Homo sapiens: one gene and its partners. The protein of the gene in region 1 interacts with the protein of each later gene in a pairwise test. Each region holds a gene or a part of one and is shown in the gene's direction. Other genes may lie near its edges. The genes, in order: MYG1, MAL2 and TNMD.

Evidence for each region.
Region 2: the proteins of MYG1 (region 1) and MAL2 interact in binary tests that used the Homo sapiens proteins (3 or more experiments, as listed by UniProt).
Region 3: the proteins of MYG1 (region 1) and TNMD interact in binary tests that used the Homo sapiens proteins (3 or more experiments, as listed by UniProt).

The regions. Positions count from the first base shown.
Region 1 is NC_000012.12:53,305,094-53,307,746, forward strand, and holds the end of MYG1 (MYG1 exonuclease precursor), read left to right. Parts: intron 1-814; coding exon 815-967; intron 968-1,104; coding exon 1,105-1,227; intron 1,228-1,586; coding exon 1,587-1,768; intron 1,769-1,872; coding exon 1,873-2,056; 3' UTR 2,057-2,084; downstream 2,085-2,653. Other genes in the region: AAAS (aladin), read right to left, coding at 2,396-2,620. UniProt on the Homo sapiens protein: 3'-5' RNA exonuclease which cleaves in situ on specific transcripts in both nucleus and mitochondrion. Involved in regulating spatially segregated organellar RNA processing, acts as a coordinator of nucleo-mitochondrial crosstalk.
Region 2 is NC_000008.11:119,211,302-119,214,962, forward strand, and holds part of MAL2 (protein MAL2), read left to right. Parts: intron 1-3,321; exon of another isoform or gene 3,322-3,661. UniProt on the Homo sapiens protein: Member of the machinery of polarized transport. Required for the indirect transcytotic route at the step of the egress of the transcytosing cargo from perinuclear endosomes in order for it to travel to the apical surface via a raft-dependent pathway.
Region 3 is NC_000023.11:100,597,556-100,600,441, forward strand, and holds the end of TNMD (tenomodulin), read left to right. Parts: coding exon 1-102; intron 103-1,460; coding exon 1,461-1,627; intron 1,628-1,952; coding exon 1,953-2,162; 3' UTR 2,163-2,330; downstream 2,331-2,886. UniProt on the Homo sapiens protein: May be an angiogenesis inhibitor.

The DNA.
Region 1 (2,653 bases):
TCCTGACCTCGTGATCCGCCCGCCTCGGCCTCCCAAAGTGCTGGGATTACAGGCGTGAGCCACCGCGCCCGGCCTAAACCCATGTTTTAACTGAGCATCAGGTTGGGATCCAAACCAAGAAGAGCTGGGCATAGGAGTTACTTTCTCAGTGCTCTGAGAGTAGCACTTTTCTACATACCACAGGTGTACTGTTATGGAGGCCTATTTTGTAGGGTAATTTTGCATAAAGTTTCTGCCCCGAGACTCTTGAGGCATTATCCTACCATTTATTCAGACCCAGGAGACAACTGCTGATGTCATGAGGCACATTATGGGCTTCCCTGGAACCCTAACCCAGCAACCAGCTTTTGGTGTCTAGTCTCACACTCATTTTCTCCCACTTGACTTGTGTTCTCAACCAGAGCCGCTCCTGCACCTCATTAACCGTGTCACTGAATACCTACTCACCCCACCTGGAGATTTACCAGCCTTCAGCCACAGGGACCCACTCCCACAGAGAGCCTCTAGCACCTAGAGACCTTCCTTGTTCAAAAGTTAGCAGTCCCCTCCCTACACGTGTTGGCTTTGGTTTGGGCTTTGTGCAGCAGAATGAGCATGGATTAGAAATCAGGTGATCTGAATTCCAGTCACAGCACAACGAGCTGTCTGAGCTTCAGCGAGCTGCTGAACTTGCCAATTCTCCCTTTTCTCATCCAGTTAATGTTGAGAGATCCTCACAGGGCTGAAAGAGTGTGTATGAACATACTTTGAATCATGTAAGATTTCACATAAGTAGCAGGTAGCCTCAAGAAGGTTTCCCCTGCTGCTGCCTTAGATGTATGAGAACTTTGTGGAGGAGGTGGATGCTGTGGACAATGGGATCTCCCAGTGGGCAGAGGGGGAGCCTCGATATGCACTGACCACTACCCTGAGTGCACGAGTTGCTCGACTTAATCCTACCTGGAACCACCCCGACCAAGACACTGAGGTAAGGTGGCCTGGGAGGAGACCCGGAGACCTGTAAGAACCTTGGGTGGGGGGAAAATGGGAGCATTTGCTCCTCCTAAGCCCTAGCAAATTCCAAGTTTGGGCCAGCATCATGGTTCTAATTCTCATCATTCCCAGGCAGGGTTCAAGCGTGCAATGGATCTGGTTCAAGAGGAGTTTCTGCAGAGATTAGATTTCTACCAACACAGCTGGCTGCCAGCCCGGGCCTTGGTGGAAGAGGCCCTTGCCCAGCGATTCCAGGTATAGGCCTTGGAGGAGGCATTATGGCTTGAGGATTACTGACTGCCAATCAACAGGAACTCCTGCTTCTTCTACCCTAAACCCTGGAGTGCAGTGGCAGACAACCTCAACCTCTTAGGCTCAAGCAGTCCTCCCACCTCAGCCTCCTGAGTAGCTGGGACTACAGGCACACACCACCTCACCCAGCTAATTTTTGTATTTTTTGTAGAGACAGGGTCTTACTTTGTTGCCTAGGCTAGTCTCAAATTCCTGGGCTCAACTGATCCTCCCACCTCAGCCTCCCAAAATGTTGTGACTACAAACATGATCACCATGCCCAGCCTACCTTAAACCTTCTAGCTATGCTCTCCCTCTTTCAGGTGGACCCAAGTGGAGAGATTGTGGAACTGGCGAAAGGTGCATGTCCCTGGAAGGAGCATCTCTACCACCTGGAATCTGGGCTGTCCCCTCCAGTGGCCATCTTCTTTGTTATCTACACTGACCAGGCTGGACAGTGGCGAATACAGTGTGTGCCCAAGGAGCCCCACTCATTCCAAAGCCGGTGAGGCCCTAGGGAACCACTCTGCAGACCTTCAGGCTTGTCTCAGCCTTGTTAAGAGAAGGCTGCCAACTCTGACCCCTGCTGTACTCCCTCTTTCTGCCCAGGCTGCCCCTGCCAGAGCCATGGCGGGGTCTTCGGGACGAGGCCCTGGACCAGGTCAGTGGGATCCCTGGCTGCATCTTCGTCCATGCAAGCGGCTTCACTGGCGGTCACCACACCCGAGAGGGTGCCTTGAGCATGGCCCGTGCCACCTTGGCCCAGCGCTCATACCTCCCACAAATCTCCTAGTCTAATAAAACCTTCCATCTCATACTGACCCAGTCCTTGACTTATTCTTGCCCTACACCATTCCAGAAACTTGTGAAAAGTGAAACAACTATTTATGTGTAAGACCCTGTGCTAGATATATTTTCTTCACAGTAACTTCTCAGCCTTGCTTCCCAAATCATTTGAAACCATAGTTTCTAGGATTAAATAACGTGACCAAATTCACAAGTGGCTAAAAAGTGACAGAACAGGGCCTTAACCCAAAGTCCATGCTTTTTTCCCCTACTGTACCCCACTGCAACTCCCTGGAAAAGACAGACTGGTAACTGAGTGGAAAACAAAAGGAAAACTTATTTATTCTTAGAGGTGGGAATGTGGGGAGTGGGGCAGAACAGGTGGTGGCCCTGGGAGAGGGTCCCAAGGGGCAGAGGTTGGGGATGTCTCAGTAAAGAGGGGCAGGTCATGAATAGAGCCTCCACCCCCAGCAGGGGGTTCCTGGGCCCGCCCAAGCACTGGGCTAAAACGTGGAAACTGGGCATTGACAAAGTACAGCGGGATGTGGGCAATTCGGCCTGTGGACCAGCCCTGCAGAGAAGGGAAAGAAAAGGATCAGAGTCT
Region 2 (3,661 bases), on another chromosome or scaffold:
TGCCGGTGTTTCTGGATATCCTCAAACTCCATTTTAATTTTGACCTTCTGTTCAAATTCGTTTGTCTTTAAGAGTTCTTCATTTCTGTCCCATTGCCTTCTGAAACTTAACATGTGAAAATTGTACCTGACAAAGGAGGACTGGGCTATCAACAGTTGACTACGCTATTGACACCATGCTCTTGGAGTTTGGTTCTCACACTAACCATTTAACTTGGCTCAAAGTATTCATTCCCAATTCCCCTTAACGTATTCTATTCACAGCCTGTCAGATATAAGCCATTTGTTGGGAGATATTACAAAATATATAAATAGTGCCAGCCTACGAGCACCAGGAAAAGCATTATAGCACTGGCTTCTTAAGTGGAGAATATTACAATCTCACGTGCATAGTGATTTTTTTTTTTTTTTTTTTGAGATAGGGAGATAAGGTGTGTTCCACTCCTGGATACCTAATTGTCAGCTCTTTGGTTTTGGGCTTAGCAATACTTACCAATGTATGCTTGCCACAGAGTTTAATACTAAGTTAATATTGCAAAGCTAAGCCTTTTAGCTTAGAATGGAAGCCATCACCTTCAAAATTCGCACTTTCAAAATCTCACAGTTTTTTGAGTGAATATTTTATAAAAATCACTCATCGGGTATTTACTGAATACCTACTATGTGCAAGGCACTCCTCTGGGAACAAAGATGTTTAAACCCTTCCTCACCAGAAAGACCTATAACCTAGTTGAGAGTATAGTCACAAAAGTAACTACCATTCAGGGAAGAAAGAATTAAGTATGGGAAGTGAACTGCAGCTAAAACATTTTCCAGGTGGGTCTATCTACTTTAAAAAATAACATGGGATCATCTGCACTATTGGGCTGAACAAGATATTTAGGATCCCTGCTCTCAATGAGCTTATCTTGTAAAATGCACAAGAAAAATTGAATTTTTAATAGTATTAATCACGAAAAAGAATACAGATAATCATTGAATTCATTGTGTTTTATTTTGCAGTTTTAGTGTTTAAGAAACTACTTATATTCCCCAAGTTATTCATTCACATTTATCTTTGTGGGAGATACTCTAGGATTCTTATTCACATGCTTCTAACTGCAGTGTTTTGGATGCCATAGTAATTTTCATTTACTCAGCTTATAATTAAGAACATACTATGCATCAAGCCTTCTTTTATGCCCTGAAAATAGAGTAACTAACATGGCTCCTGCCCTTAAAAGAAATTACTGTTTGGTGGAATATAAAGTCAAGAAAGAATTACCATGCTGTGTATGAAGTGCTAATATAGGTTTATAAAAAGTATTGTGGAACAGCAGGATAGAGTACATCTGACTTCTGGAGAGGTCAGAACAGGCAGCTTTAATGAGGTGGGGACATTTGAGGTTAGCCTTCAATAATGAGCCATGGTTCATTAGAAAATGGGAAAGAGAATTCCAGGTAGAAACAAGGACACGTACAAACACAGAGACAAGAAGGACAATGGCAAGAACGTTCTGTCAGTTGTGAGATTTTGGTGGGCCGTGGCAGAAAAAGGAAAAACAGCAGGTAGGACTCAGGTTCTGGTTTGCTGAGAAATGCTAGGCCAAGGCATTGGATTTATTGTCTGATGGAAAGCTGTGAAGGACAGAGAGAAACTTGATCCAGCTTGTGTCTTAGAAACCTTTGAGTGATGAAGTTTGGTTGTAAAACAAAGGGACTGAAGGCAGGAAGAGCAGTTAGGGGGCTTATTGCAATAGTTTAGATAAGGGATGAAAAGAACCTGAAATAGAACCAATGAAAGAAGGATGGAGAAGGAGAGAGAGAGGTTTGAGGTTTGGGAAGTCAATTAAGTATGTAAAGTTTGACTTGCCCCAAAGTGATACCTAGACTAAACTTAAATATAAGATGTAACTCAGAGGAATTATGCCAGAAAAACAAATGTTAATGAAAGGATGATTGTGAGGGAGGGACTTTAGGGGAGGCAGGTTCAGTCATGCAGATAAATCTATGAAAGGGACTTCAGGTTATTTTCAACTGAGAGCTTTGACTTTGGACTAGTAACATGTATATGTTCTGATGTATAGAGTTTATTGCCTGGAAAATGTTGACTGTGAAGGGACATTGCTTATTTGCAGTGTGCAAGAGGGAGCTGTCCATGGACATAGTTGTCCCCTAAATGGGTTTTAAAACTGTAGGTATTTTTTTTCCTTTGCCTCTGGATTAAAAATCTTCATCCACATTAAAAGAATCTTTAGGCCGGGTGCAGTGGCTCATGCCTGTAATCCTAGCACTTTGGGAGGCTGAAGCAGGTGGATCACCTGAGGTCAGGAGTTCAAGACCAGCCTGACCAACATGGTGAAACCCCCATCTCTACTAAAAATACAAAATTAGCCAGGTGTGGTGGCACATGACTGTAATCCCAGCTACTTGGGAGGCCGTGGCAGGAGAATTGCTTGAACCTGGGAGGCAGAGTTGCAGTGAGCCAAGATCGCACCATCACCCTCCAGCCTGGGAAATAAGAGCGAAACTACATCCCCAAAATAATAAATGAATAAATAAATAACCTTTAAAGTTTCATAAGGGAAAATAAACCAATGCCCCTGCCAGAGATTATTATCAACAATCATTTGCTCCGACTGGCAGTCCTTTAAAAAAAAATACGAAGAACTGAAATATGGAAAACTTTAAACCAAGTAGCTGAAAAGATTCACCTTGAGCTCCAAAGGAAAAAGTCATAGAGAAGAGATTTGTTTTGTAGAGCCTGATAGAAATGTTGTACGTGGTGGTAGGAGCTGTGGACATGGTGTATTTGCAGTGATATGGCTGAATAGAAATGACCCTGTAATGACAAAGGACAGGAACCAGGTTGGCATACCCAGTATCATGCACATGCAGTACTTAACAAATGCTACTTGTTTGTTCTATAGTACAAACTGAGCAGTATGTGAAAATAGTCTGGAGACATTGGCTGGAGTGGAGAAGGGCAGCTTGGGAGTAGATGCCCTCTTAAATCTTGCCCAACATGTAAACTGCCATAATTCTTCTCCAGGTTTCTGCACTTTAACTTGAATTTCCTAAGTGTTCTATTTTATATAAGAGTACCATATCCTTTTATAGACAACATATATAACAATCTCAACTTCTGTATAATAGCTATGAGAAGGAGGAAGGTAAAAAGAAAGGAAAGAGGCAGTGATTTATACGGGTCTGGCCAATATCAGGGCATTGGCACGCAGGAACAGCTTTAAACTAAAAGTGATAACTAGTTACCTGCAAACATGAAAAGGGAATTTTCAAAATCGAGAGGAATTATTATAAAGAAGAATAAAAAGAACCAGAACATATTTCTCCTCTGTAATATGAGCTTTCCATTTTAGGGTCGGTGTCAGCTATTTAAGCAGCTGAATTGGAGGTTTAGGTCACATGGGGAGGAAGAAAGTATAACTCTCTATAGCACTCTCAGACATATTTTTAAAGCCTTCAAATGTAAAGCTAAAAAGTAGAACTTCTTTTGCAATGAGTATTAACGTATTTTGGTCATAAGCCTCTTATGTGTATGTCATTTCTCATTACATCCCAGAATTTGTTCTGTTTTCCTAACTAACTAAATAAATAAACACCTTGCTGCCTTGCATCTCTAATGCAGGTCTATGCCAGGGCCAGTCCAGAAGCAGTTTGGA
Region 3 (2,886 bases), on another chromosome or scaffold:
CAGAAAAGCCTATTGAAAACCGAGATTTTCTTAAAAATTCCAAAATTCTGGAGATTTGTGATAACGTGACCATGTATTGGATCAATCCCACTCTAATATCAGGTATGACATTCTTATCCTCATCCTCCTCCTATTTTCTAAGACAGTAACAGGTTAATGTTCCCAGCATTTAGAGGCTACATTTCTAGGAAAACAAATGATCGGTTTATATCTTCTTGGATGAGTCTATATATGCTGACTGCCAGTGAGGAGGGAATTTTTCACAGCCAAGTTATAAATCAGATAAATTAATGTTGACAGGCTTTTAAATATCCCAGCAAAGGTAACACCACCCTAATGTGACTAGTGATAGCAAAAAACTAATCTGTCTCTCTTTGCACATCTATATTCATTGCAGTCGGTATGCCAGACTATTGCTCAAACCACTGTGGGTCCAACCCAAGAATAGAGGAGAGAAGGGCAAAAACAATGCTCTGCTATCAAGAAGGATTCCCTATGTCAAATGGTGGCATTTTCCTTAGAAGATAGGACAATCACTGCAATACAAATTTCTTTGTTGCTGTTTTAGGAATTACTATAAAAATAGTTGAGGGCTTGATGTCCAGAGTAGAAGAGTCCAGCCCTCAACTTCCAGTCAGCCCATAGAGAAGGTAAAGGCCCCTGGATGTCTTAGTCTGTTTAGCTAACATGGAATTTGGCCTCCCTCATTCTGCACAGCATAGATTACTCTATTACCCAAGAGAGGTTATTCTCACCAATGTAAGCATCTGTGGGTACTCTTTAGAGATATTAAAAAGGTGACTAAATGCAGTGTGGTATCCTGGACTGGATGCTGGAACAGAAAAAAACATTAGTAGAAATACTAATGAAATCTGAATAAAGTCTGTAGTTTAGTTAATAACATTGTACCAATTCTAACTTCTGATTTTTGATCATTGTACCATGGTTATGTGAGGTAACATTAGGGGAAACCGGGTGAAGAATATGTGAACTCTGTACTATTTCTGCAACTCTTCCATAAATCTAAGATTATTTCTAAACAGAAAGTTTAAAAAAAATTTAAGACAAGAAACATAAGGGAAGTGGGAGGACAGAGGATGTCAAATCAATTCAGGCAACCAAGAAATATTTATTGAGCATCTACATGGGTAAAATCATCATTGTAGGAGATACAGAAGTCCCTTGTCCTCAGTTTTTAATTTAGTGTGCTATTAAGTCAAAGCAGTAAATGTTTGATGCCAAAGAAGCAAAGAAGTTTGTGTATGTAGAAATGATCAGGCTTGTTTTGGAAACTACTCTAAAATATCAGCTGAAGGAGCTTGGAAAAGTGGTCCATGCCTAAATGATGCCAGTTAGAAGACACAATGAAAATCTCTATCCCCAGCTGCTATTCTCCCAAGCACTTCTTTCAGGAACATTTGCAAAGCAGTTGCATCACAACTTTGCATTTATTATCTTAGTTTCTGAGTTACAAGACTTTGAGGAGGAGGGAGAAGATCTTCACTTTCCTGCCAACGAAAAAAAAGGGATTGAACAAAATGAACAGTGGGTGGTCCCTCAAGTGAAAGTAGAGAAGACCCGTCACGCCAGACAAGCAAGTGAGGAAGAACTTCCAATAAATGACTATGTGAGTTATGTTTATGTAAACTCTTGATAGAGGAGGAAAAAAGAGCCCTCACAAAACTTACTACCCCTCAGATCACAATCATTGGAAGGAGAACGATCATGGCTTTAACAAAAAAAAAAAAATGTTTAAGAAACTTGGAATCTCCAGGAGGCTCATTCAAAATCAATCTCGATCTCTGTAGATATATCTCCATGATCAGGCTAAGGAGCTTAATTTCTCACAAGCCCCCAACTCATACAGTCTTCTAGTTCTCCCCTGCTTGGTGAGAACTCTTGCTAGTGAACCTTCCTCTCCCACCCCCAACACTGGCTTCTTCTTCTTTCAGACTGAAAATGGAATAGAATTTGATCCCATGCTGGATGAGAGAGGTTATTGTTGTATTTACTGCCGTCGAGGCAACCGCTATTGCCGCCGCGTCTGTGAACCTTTACTAGGCTACTACCCATATCCATACTGCTACCAAGGAGGACGAGTCATCTGTCGTGTCATCATGCCTTGTAACTGGTGGGTGGCCCGCATGCTGGGGAGGGTCTAATAGGAGGTTTGAGCTCAAATGCTTAAACTGCTGGCAACATATAATAAATGCATGCTATTCAATGAATTTCTGCCTATGAGGCATCTGGCCCCTGGTAGCCAGCTCTCCAGAATTACTTGTAGGTAATTCCTCTCTTCATGTTCTAATAAACTTCTACATTATCACCAACAGCCTGATTGCTGCTGAACACACTGGGTAAGTGTTTGCTGAGAATATTCACAGCAACTGAAATGGAGCAGACCCGTCAAACATAGATGACTATGCTGAGGCTCAGAAAACAATGCCCCAAAATGAAAGCCTCAGAAGCAAAAGTTTTTCTCTGACCTTCTCCTACCTGCCAGTCTCTCAGTCCCATTCTCCCCCGAGGCTAGCCATAAAAGCTAGAATCCCTCTTCCTCAAGGCGTGTCATATAAATCAAAACCCCTTTTTTCCAAAGCCAGCCTTAAACCTAAAAATATCACTCTGATTTTTCCTCTGCTTTTCTGTGTAAAAGCTGGCCATAAGGAAATTATCTGACCTACCTTGTTTGACTGTAGGTCATAAGACTCCCTTTCCAGAGAGGATCCAACACAACAGGTTTGGAAGTAGAAAAGGGCAAAGCATAATGATACCTAAATATCATATTTTACTCTGCTGTATTAAGACAGTGGAAATAAGGAGCTGATGATAAAATGTCTCCATAACTGATGCATTAAAAACATATCCTTTTGTGCATAGCCCCAG